Homo sapiens: one gene and its partners. The protein of the gene in region 3 purifies or fractionates together with the protein of the main gene of each other region. This does not show direct contact. Each region holds a gene or a part of one and is shown on either strand. Other genes may lie near its edges. The genes, in order: OS9, SUCLG1 and SERPINC1.

Region 1 (3,750 bases), on a different chromosome or scaffold from region 3:
CTTACTTTATAAGAATTGAGTTGGTCTACTACCCTAGACCTTCCTTTAGAGGCAAATTGCTCTCCCAGGGTTCTGCATCCCAGCCCTGTCCGCATTTTTTTCTCACTTTTTCTACTGTACCTTGATCTCCCTCTCCTCCTTTCCGCTAACATCCACCCAACAGCCTTCAACATGTTCTAGTCTGTTGCATCTTAAAACACACACCAATAAATAGGAATTTATTTAATTCCATATAGCTAACCAGTTGTTCCCTAGCCCCACAGAGACTGCACTTTAAACAACATGCACGCTGTTCCTATTGAGGAGGCATCAGGCCAGCAACACATCACAGTGCCTGCCCTGGAGTAGGGGCTTTACCTGATCACCTAGGCAAGTGGCATAAGAACTGAAAACTAGAAGCAACCAGACAGGAATGGCCTCAACTTTCTGCCACCAAAACCTCCAGACTCACTAGCAAATACACCATTCCAGTTACGACCCTAGACCTTCCTTTTGAGGCAAATTGCTCTCCCAGGGTTCTGCATCCCATCCCTGTCCACATTCTTTTCACATTCTCTCTACTGTACCTTGACTTCCCTCTCCTCCTCTCCACTAACATTCACCCAAGTCTTCAACATGTTCTAGTCTGTTCCATCTTAAAACACACACCAACCACAGAATGCCCCCTCTCTCAACCCCCCAGCACCTCTCACTAATGCTTACCTTTTATCTCCCTTTCATATCCAAACTTCTTCAAAGATTTCCAGTTTCTTTTTCTTTTTTTCTTTTCTTTTTTTTCTTTTTTGAGACAGTCTCACTCTGTCACCCAGGCTGGAGTGCAATGGTGCGATATCAGCTCACTGCGACCTCCGCCTCCCGGGTTCAAGCAATTCTCCTGCCTCAGCCTCCCGAGTAGCTGGGATTACAGGCGCCCACCACCACACCCGGCTAATTTTGTATTTTTAGTAGACATGGGGTTTCACCATATTGGCCAGGCTGTTCTTGAACTCCTGACCTCAAGTGATTTGCCTGCCTTGGCCTCCCAAAGTGCTGGGATTATAGGCATGAGCCACCGCGCCCAGCAGAGTTCCACTTTTTCACCACTTTTCTCAACACCTCATCTTCACAACTCTGCTCAAATTGCCCCAGCAAAGATCACCAATGATCTCTATCATTAAGTCCAACCAAAGGACTGGTCAGGGGTGCCTGGAAGTAGAGAATTTATACTTTCCATCTGGCTCTCTTCTCTACTGTCTGAATTTTTTATTTCCATGTACATGTTTTGCCTTTATTAAAATAATAATGACTATGATTGCCTATAAGCAGTTTTTAATCCTCCTCTTCCTTGAAGGTTCAGGCACAGCCAACACCATGGACCAATTTCCCCTTCAAATGTGTCCTTCCTCGTTTCCATGTCACCATAGCCTCCTCTCTGGCCCTTTCTTCTGGCAAAACCCTCTTCTTCCCATGCTCTTAGTGATGGCTTCCTTGAAGTTCCATCCCACTTTTCTCATTAGATACTGTTTTCTTTGGGGGATTTCATCCATACCTTGGCTTCAGTTATGGCTGATACAAGGACAACTCCCCACCTCTGGGTTCAATTCAGATCTCTCTGCTGAACTCCAGACCCAGAGATCCACAGCCCCCTTGGAAATCTCTACTTGAATGCCTAGCAGCCACTAAAATCATATTCAAAGCCAAACTCACCATTTTCCTTCACCATACCTACTCCTCTTCTCATTATACCTATCTCAGGAACACGAATCACCCTCTATCTAACTGCACAAGCCAAAAGCCTGGAAATCATTCTTGACTCCTTCTTACTCTGTTGATTTTACCCCCTAAATCTGTCTCTAAATATTCACATTTCTTCATCCCCAGGCCACTTTTATTTCACACCTGGATTACCACAGCTGCCTAAGTGAGCTCTCAATCTTTGCTATACTCCAGCTAGAGTGGGCCTTCAATTCCAAACCTGAATATGTCATCATTCTGCTTCAAATACCTCATTGCCTCCCCTAACCATTGTCTCTTGGATTGTCTAAATTCCTCATCATAGCTACAGAGCCCTTCATGACCTGTCCCCTACCAACCACCCAGACTCATCTCCTACACTCCTCTTCCCATGATTATCCCCTCAGTCCCTGTGAGTATCTGTCAGTTCCTGGGATAGGCCATTGCCTCTTGTCTCCAGGCCTTTTGCACTTAGCGCACCTTCCATTTGGAATGCCCTCTCATTCCCCCCACCATCCTCTCCATCTGCTAGTCTAACTCCTCATCCTCCAATGTCAGTTCAAAGGTCACTTTTCCCAAGAGGCCTCCTTTTCACCCTGGACTCTGTCCCGACTGTGTGCTCCCCTGCGGGCTGCACTTCACTGCTCATGGCATTTATCCTGCTTGTTGTGGCTGTTCATTTAACATATCTCCTGAGAGCAGGACTAGGTCTCATCCACCTTTTTGTTCCTAGTTTCTATTAGTGCTTGGCACAGGGCATATGTTCACCAGATATGAGGAAGCTATGCAGTCTTGACCTCAGTTCTTGGCCTACTGAAGATACAAACACCCAAACGAATAACTAGAATACAATGAAGTGCTATAACGGATTATATACGTGTGTGGATGCTTGTATTATTAAGTGGTGAAGGAACACAACTAACTAATTTTCTGGGTTAATCAAGAAAGGTGATATTAGAACTGGCTTGTCAGTCATTTCATTCATTCAATGAATAATTTCTAGGTACCTATTTGAGTGAAGCACTGTTCCAGGAGCTGTGGATACATAAGAAAACAAGATAGACATCATCCCTGCCTTCCCAGAGCTTATCTTAGTGAGGGAAGACAGAATTAAACAAATACAATAATTTCAAGTAATGATACATGCTTTGAAGAATGCAAAACACTGTGGATGCTTACCAGGACAGGAGCAATAGGGTGTGTGTGTGTGTGTGTGTGTGTGTGTGTGTGTGTGTGTGTATGTGTGTGTGTGTGTTTGCTTATGTTAGGTTCCGTGTGTGTGTGTGTGTGTGTGTGTGTGTTTGCTTATGTTAGGTTCCCTGGGAGTTGTCACTTGAATATAACCTGAATGAGGGGATGGGGCCAATCATTTAAAGATCTGCAGGAGACTGCACCAGGCAGAGGGAACAATGAGACCCACTGGTTCGAAGGACAGAAAAAGGCCAGTGTGGCAGAAATACAATGAGTACTTATATCTCTATCCCAGACCTTGTCCCTGAATTCCAGAACCACAGAGCCAACTGTCAACTGGACATCACCACTAGGATGTCTAAAGGCACCTCAACCTTCAATATCCAAAACCAACCTAATTTCCTCCCCTAAACCTGTTCCTTCACACTTCAGTAAATTACAATTCCATCATTCCAGTTGCTCAAGCCAAAAATCTTGAAGTAATCCATGATTCTATCCCACATCCAAACCATCAACAAATCTCATTGGCTCTACCTTCAAAATATATCCAGAATCCAACTACTTCCCATCACCTCCACTGCCACCACCCTGGTCTGTGCTGAAACATTTGGCTCTTAGCCTTTGTGCAAGGCAGAAACATTGAAGGTTTTTCAGGACTGAACAGAGAAGTGATGCAGACTTACAGGTGTGTTGGAGCCAACTGGTAAGTTTTGGAGAATGTTGCAAGACAGTTGACATCATTTGACTTGCGCATCATGGGAGTATTTATACCACAGGCATTGGCAAACATTACAGATCAGGGCTTCCCTCCCACACCCATAGAGATCTGGGGGTCCAACACTTACC
Region 2 (3,750 bases), on a different chromosome or scaffold from region 3:
TTAAATTCTATTATGGCTGATTTTATAACCTCAAAATATAGAGAGGAGATGTTTTTTTACAATTCCTCTAGGTTGACTTTTCTTTTGTCATGAGCCTCTTTTTGCTTTTTTTTTTTTTTTAAAGAAAGTTCTTCTTGCTAAGCAATCCATTTATAATTTATAGTGACACAAATAGTTGTGACATTTGGAATATTCTATAAGTTTTTTGACAGATATTGTTTATTTTTCACCCGTTCTGCTCTTACAAAGGGCTTTTTGAATGAGTAGGGTTGGTACCTTTCATCCATATGACGTCCCAGCACAATATTTGCTGTTGTCACAGTATAGCTTCTGGCAGTATTTGTAGACTTTAGAGGTAGAAAACTATGTAATGTAGGTACTTTTCATTAAAGTACCTACATCCCCATGATGTGACTTTTTTTGATTCCATACTAGTTTTAATGTTTTTTGTGTCTCCCCCTCTGTTATCATCTTGAACAGAGTTTTAAAAAATTATTTTTAACCCCCGGCATCATTTGTGGATGATATGTTGGCATTCTTTGACTCTGTTCACTGTCAGGCTGCTTTCAGATTTACTGACATGCCATAGAGAGTGAGATGTCACAGAAGCTTTCAATTCACAGTGGCATTCAAATGGGCTGAGAAAGGGCTATGCTTGATTCTGTTCTACTCTGACAGTGTAGCAAATTTGAGAATGGGAAGAATGCTATGTCTCTGGGTAGTGTCCTTTTCTTACCCCAAGACATTATTAAAATGATGGTATTGAATTTATTTTACAATGTTTATGATTTAACAAATAATAAGGTGCTTCGTCGTTAATGTTTCAGGCCAAAGAACAGACAGGAGCAACGGCTTCTGTCATTTATGTTCCTCCGCCTTTTGCTGCTGCTGCCATTAATGAAGCTATTGAGGCAGAAATTCCCTTGGTTGTGTGTATCACTGAAGGAATTCCCCAGCAGGACATGGTACGAGTCAAGCACAAACTGCTGCGCCAGGAAAAGACAAGGCTAATTGGGCCCAACTGCCCTGGAGTCATCAATGTGAGTGCAAAAAAACAAAAAGAAACTCAGATTAAGCCTCTCACAAGGCTAAACAGCTTTGAGTGAATGCGAGTGTATTTGTGTGTATGACCTGTGAGTGACTTTTTTTTTTAACATTTCTGAAAACTATGATTACTTTCAGCCTGGAGAATGTAAAATTGGCATCATGCCTGGCCATATTCACAAAAAAGGAAGGATTGGTGAGTTTGTTTGTTACATTCTTATAGATTAAAACGTTATTTGCCTTAAACCCTCAAAACTCACAAAGAATTTTTGACTTTGCAAATCAAGTTTAATTAATTTGACTTGAGTAGAATTTACCAGGGAAGTTTTGTAGTCTATCAATTCTGTATCTTGAATATAATGAGTTTATTTGAGAAGCCGTTACAATTCTGCAGAATCAGTGAAGATTTTTTTGGTGGTGGGAGTTTAAAGATTTTTTTCTGCTCAGCACTCTGTGGATTACTCCATGTGTTTGCATATATCAGTAGTTAATTTCATTAACTGTTATAACTTAGTTATTGCTAAGGAGTATTCTGTTGTATAATTATACCACAGTTTGTTTATTCATTCTCCCATTAATGAACATTTGGGTTGTTTTCATGTTTGAGCCTTACAAACAAGGCTTAGGTCAACATTTGTGTACAGGTCTTTTTGTGGAAACATTTTCGTTTCTCTTGGGCAAAATGTGTAGGAATGGAATTGCTAAGTCATGTTCATATGAACATAAGTCAAGTATATTTAACTTTATAAGAAACTGCCAAATAGTTCTGCAAAGTGGCTATATCATTTTATATTTTCACCATTAATGTAGGAGAGTTCCACTTGCTCCATATCTTCACAAAGATTTGGTATTGTTAGTCTTCATTTTTTTGAGACAGAGTTTTGCTCTGTCGCCCAGGCTGGAGTGCAATGGCTCGATCTCGGCTTACCCCCACCTCCGCCTCCCAGGTTCAAGTGATTCTCCTGCCTTAGCCTCCCGAGTAGCTGGGATTACAGGCATGCGCCACCACGCCCAGCTAATTTTGTATTTTTAGTAGAGACGGGTTTCTCCATGTTGGTCAGGCTGGCCTCGAACTCCCGACCTCAGGTGATCTGCTGGCCTCGGCCTCTCAAAGTGCTGGGATTACAGGCGTGAGCTACCATGCCCGGCTATTAGCCTTTTTAAATGTAGCCATTCTACTGAGAGTAAAATGGTATCTCTTGTGGTTTTGAGTGTCCCTGATGACTAATAATGTAGAGCACCTTTTCATGTGCTTATAAGGCCATTCACATACCTGCTCAATAATTACCTTGTTCTTTTAGATATCACAAACTTTCTCAAAATGTTTTAGGTTTGTAGGCACCTTAGAAAGCAGGGCAGTGATCAGAAAGGGAACTCAGATGGCCTGTCAGGAAAATTGCCCTGCTACTTGGTTAGTTCCTTGAGGAAATAGCCAAAGTAACATTTCAAAGTTAGCCACATTAGGCTTGTGTTTAGGCTTTACACCAAAATTTCTCTAAACTATACTGTTTTTCAGTCATGAAAGATGATTGACCATATTTTTCTCTATCTATAAACCATGGCTACTAATAAGGGTAATTAATTGTCACAGTGGGTGTCGGCTGTGCAGTTTACAGAATTGGGTTAAAGATCATGATTTTTCTTTATTACCAATGTCTCTTGGAGCTGTCAGCCCTGCTGCCAGTGGCAGTACTTGATAATTTCATTTACAAGAGAGATTTCAGGGAGCTCCATAGGCCATCTGAGTTCCAGTGGGGCCAGATCCATGTATCACTGATGCTCTTGTACATATTTGAATATTTCTTATATTCTTGGGTCTGTTTTGAAGGCTGTGGTCTTAAGGTGAGCATGGAAGGAATGCTCTGTGCTGAGTTGCCTTTCTGATCACTGCTCTGCTTTCTAAGGTGAGCATAAACCTAAAAAATGAAAATCAAGAGAAGTTCAGGGAAGTCCTTTAGACCTTGCCTTTGTGAATGGTCATAACCCATTGATGAGACAGTCGTCTGGGAGACTGCTTTTAATTCCTTTGAAAAAGGACTTTTTTTTTTTTTTTAAAAAAAAGAAGAAAATATGTGACACTGTGTCCAGAGTTGGTTCCTTCCAGTGGGTTCTTGGTCTCGCTGACTTCAATGAAGCCGCGGACCTTCGCAGTGAGTGTTACAGCTCTTAAAGGTGGCATGGACCTGAAGAGTGAGCAGCAGCAAGATTTATTGTGAAGAGTGAAAGAGCAAACCTTCCATGGCATGGAACAGGACCTGAGTGGGTTGCAGCTGCTGACTGGAGTGGCCAGCTTTTATTCCCTTATTTGTCCCCTGCCCGTGTCCTGCTGATTGGTCCATTTTACAAACCTCTAGCTACAGAGCGCTGATTGGTGGGTTTTTATAGAGCACTGGTTAGTGCATTTTACAAACTTCTAGCTAGCTACAGAGCGCTGATTGGTGCGTTTTACAATCCTAGCTACAGAGTGCTGATTGGTGCATTTTATAATCCTCTTGTAAGACAGAAAATTTCTCCAAGTCCCCACTCAACCCAGGAAGTCCAGCTGGCTTCACTTTCAACACTACAAGATTTTTGAGGGGGTGAGGAGAGAAAGATGGTTATTTGTGCCAACTCTTCCTATTTTGGTACCATTGCTAATAGTCTCAATAGCCTCCTTGACTTCAGATCCTTAGGTTGAGAGTTAAGGGAAAGGAAGGACTTTTCAGT
Region 3 (3,750 bases):
CCTGGTAGTATCTGCATCCTAATCTTTTCCAGCGATGTTCACCAAATCACCTATATTTTTGCAGGGCCCCTCATCTGCCCTCCCCCAAGGACCTTCTTGGCAAGACACAAACCTCATAACTCCTATAAGCTGGAACAATAGGTCTCAACAGCATGTTCCTGAAACCTCAAGGTCTTTGTATTTCTGATTTCTCTTTGGACAGCTCTTCCTAAAGATATTCATATGGCCCCCTCCATCATTTCATTCTGGTTTCCTAACAATGATTCCTAAGGGAGGCCTTTCCTACCAAGTGTTCTCAGATGGTGCCCTCCCCACTTCCTCCCACTGCTTCCTATATCCTTGCCCTGCTATAGTTTTCTCTATGGACCTTATTAACATCTGACTGGCACGTTACATATTTATTTTTTAAATACTGATTTTTTTTTTTTGAGATGGAGTCTTGCTCTGTCACCCAGGCTGGAGTGCAATAGCACGATCTCGGCTCACTGCAACCTCTGCCTCCTGGGGTCAAGTGATTCTCCTGCCTCAGCCTCCTGAGTAGCTGGAATTACAGGTGCCCACCACCATGCCCAGCTATTTTTTGTATTTTTAGTAGAGATGGGGTTTCACCAGGTTGGCTAGGCCGGTCTCGAACTCCTGACCTCAGGTGATCCACCTGCCTCAGCCTACCAAAGTGCTGGGATTACAGGTGTGAGCCACCACGCTTGGCCTAAAATACTGATTCTTTATGTGATTGCTGTATGTCTCCCCCGAATGGAATCCCAGCCCCAAGAACAGTGTCTGCTGGCACAAGCAGCACTCGTGTATTTGTTGAACTCAAGTGGTTGAACAGGAGACTTTTCAATAGTCTTTAATCTAGGGTGACAGATGAGCCTCTGGGCATTCTGGGGCCCTTTGGGACAGTTCTCGGCTACTGTTCACACTGCACATGGAGGGCTTCAAAGGATCCAGGGTCTGAATCAGCCAAGAACTTAGACACAGCTTCAGTTCAGGAGAGATGTCCTCTCTCATGAACGAAGAGCTCTCGAAAATGCCTATGACTGCAACAACAACTACAAGGAGTCCTTGATCACACAGCAGGAGGCACATGCGCCCTGTGAACTTGGTGGCTGCAGTCCTTGTGATGGTGCTTTTGGCTATTTCAGAAGAGGGAAATGTAAACAAACCTGCCCTTTATCTCCACTAGTTTGAATTTACCCAATCTCCCCAATAACTAATAAAAATAACGATACACATAAATATAATTTAGTTTGTTTTTATTTCAGCAGTTGTACGTGGGTTTTTCACCTGCCCCGCATTCTGTCTCCTGATCCCCCAGTAGAGTTTTGCTAAGTATTTCCCAGCTGCTCACACCCCTTAGAAACGCGCTTGGCATGCACCCCGAGGCCCTGCTCTTCTCTCCCTGTCCCACCACTTCAGGGCTGCTGGGGAATGGGTCTCTCTGTGGGCCACAGGTGTAACCATTGTGTTTTCCTTGTCTGTGCCAGGGACACCTTGGCACTCAGATGCCTGAAGGTAGCAGCTTGTCCCTCTTTGCCTTCTCTAATTAGATATTTCTCTCTCTCTCTCCCTCTCTCCATAAAGAAAACTATGAGAGAGGGTGGGTATGAACCAAGTTTGTTTCCTTGGTTAGTTTCCTAACCAAGTTTGAGGGTATGAACATACTCTCCTTTTCCTTTTCTATAAAGCTGAGGAGAAGAGTGAGGGAGTGTGGGCAAGAGAGGTGGCTCAGGCTTTCCCTGGGCCTGATTGAACTTTAAAACTTCTCTACTAATTAAACAACACTGGGCTCTACACTTTGCTTAACCCTGGGAACTGGTCATCAGCCTTTGACCTCAGTTCCCCCTCCTGACCAGCTCTCTGCCCCACCCTGTCCTCTGGAACCTCTGCGAGATTTAGAGGAAAGAACCAGTTTTCAGGCGGATTGCCTCAGATCACACTATCTCCACTTGCCCAGCCCTGTGGAAGATTAGCGGCCATGTATTCCAATGTGATAGGAACTGTAACCTCTGGAAAAAGGTAAGAGGGGTGAGCTTTCCCCTTGCCTGCCCCTACTGGGTTTTGTGACCTCCAAAGGACTCACAGGAATGACCTCCAACACCTTTGAGAAGACCAGGCCCTCTCCCTGGTAGTTACAGTCAAAGACCTGTTTGGAAGACGTCATTTCAAGTGCTCTCCCTCCCACCCCACCTCTTGGGGTAAGGCCTTTCCTAAGCTACCCCTTGGGTCCCTAGCCTAAGAAACAAGGGGGATGTCATCCCTGGTGTAAAGATGCTGTGCAGGAAGTCAGCACTCACGGGATCCAGGGGACGCTCCAAGGGGAATCCCCAGGGCCTGCCATCCATCCGGGAAGAGAGCAAATGCTACCCATGAGGACCTCCTCACTCCCTTTTTGCTCTTTCTTCCACTCAGATCCACCCCACTCCACCCCCACCCAAATCCCAGTGACCTTTGACTAAAGGGCCAAAACTGCTTCCTTTTCTCACAATGAGAGTTGTCCCTCCCTCAATGCCACACACACTCCCTTCTTCATCTGAGTTGTCACAGGAGGCTAGAAACGGGGTGGTGGCACAACTGTCTTGGTTTTAATTTGTGCTTCATAGCCCTCCCAGGGTCCTCTCAGCCTCAAATTGCATTTCCAAATGTAGTTGAAGGACAGAGTGGGCAACCGAAGGCAGTGGAGATGGGAAGATGAATGGCAGGGTCCTCTCCTCTCTCTCTCTGCTTCTTCAGCCTGCCTTCCACATCTCCCTTGGTGCCGCTGCTTCTCTCCGGCTTTGCACCTCTGTTCTTGAAAGGGCTGCAGAACTGGACTCAGACCACGCAAGAAGGCAAGTCCCCCTCAGCTGCCCCAGCTTCCAGCCAGCCCCAGGCTTGCCCAACGGACCACGTCCGTGAATCTGCACTGGGTGCCTGTCTTTCTCTCCCAGGAGAAGATGGGAAGATCCAGTACCCACACACAGACCCCCTTGTGTACACGCAGGAACCATAAACCAGCTGGAGGCAGCCCCTGCCCCACCCTGTCTTATCTACAAAAAATATTACAAGAGACTTTATCTCTTGATTTGCTTCATCGAGTGTCCCAACTACCTCATTTTTTTAAAATGTGAAATTAGCTTCATTTACCTTCATTGAATCCATGTTGGCGACTATTAAAAATTCCAGGCAATAAAAAGGGATGAGAGCCTGAACTAAAGCAGTGGCAATAACTGGTGAAAGAGTAAAAAAACAGAACTGATTGACTCTGGGGTGAACTGATTGACTCTGGGGTTTGACTAAATGAGGAGGAGAGAGGGAGGAATCCAGGGTGATTCTCAGGTTTCTGTACGGGATTCACTGAGCCCACTCACAGGAGCAGGCCTGTGGGGGAGAATTAATTACCAGTTCAGTTTGGTCCTGTTTCCCTGAAGAACTTGTAGGAGTTCCTGGTGGAACTGTCCAGCAAATAGTCAGTCTGGAGCTCAGTGGAAGGGTTAGGGCTGGAGCTAGAGATGTAGGAATCTTCAGCACACAGATATTGCCATTGTTTTTGTTTGTTTGTTTGTTTGTTGTTGCTGTTTTGAGACACAGTCTCACTTTGTCACCCAGGTTGGAGTGCAGTGGCACAATCTCAGCTCACTGCAACCTTCGCCTCCTGGGTTCAAGTGATTCTTCTGCCTCAGCCTCCCTAGTAGCTTGGGACTACAGGTGTGCGCCACCACACCCAGCTAATTTTTGTATTTTTAGTAGAGACAGGGTTTCACCATGTTG

The links.
Region 1: the proteins of SERPINC1 (region 3) and OS9 purify together in Homo sapiens (affinity purification with mass spectrometry; 3 studies listed by BioGRID and IntAct, with this or other methods). This does not show direct contact.
Region 2: the proteins of SERPINC1 (region 3) and SUCLG1 purify together in Homo sapiens (affinity purification with mass spectrometry; 3 studies listed by BioGRID and IntAct, with this or other methods). This does not show direct contact.

The regions. Positions count from the first base shown.
Region 1 is NC_000012.12:57,697,127-57,700,876, reverse strand, and holds part of OS9 (protein OS-9 isoform 1 precursor), read right to left. Parts: intron 1-3,750. UniProt on the Homo sapiens protein: Lectin component of the HRD1 complex, which functions in endoplasmic reticulum (ER) quality control and ER-associated degradation (ERAD).
Region 2 is NC_000002.12:84,438,537-84,442,286, reverse strand, and holds part of SUCLG1 (succinate--CoA ligase [ADP/GDP-forming] subunit alpha, mitochondrial precursor), read left to right. Parts: intron 1-827; coding exon 828-1,040; intron 1,041-1,182; coding exon 1,183-1,240; intron 1,241-3,750. UniProt on the Homo sapiens protein: Succinyl-CoA synthetase functions in the citric acid cycle (TCA), coupling the hydrolysis of succinyl-CoA to the synthesis of either ATP or GTP and thus represents the only step of substrate-level phosphorylation in the TCA.
Region 3 is NC_000001.11:173,915,488-173,919,237, reverse strand, and holds the start of SERPINC1 (antithrombin-III isoform 1 precursor), read left to right. Parts: upstream 1-1,910; 5' UTR 1,911-1,978; coding exon 1,979-2,019; intron 2,020-2,297; exon of another isoform or gene 2,298-2,733; coding exon of another isoform or gene 2,734-2,831; intron 2,832-3,750. UniProt on the Homo sapiens protein: Most important serine protease inhibitor in plasma that regulates the blood coagulation cascade. AT-III inhibits thrombin, matriptase-3/TMPRSS7, as well as factors IXa, Xa and XIa. Its inhibitory activity is greatly enhanced in the presence of heparin.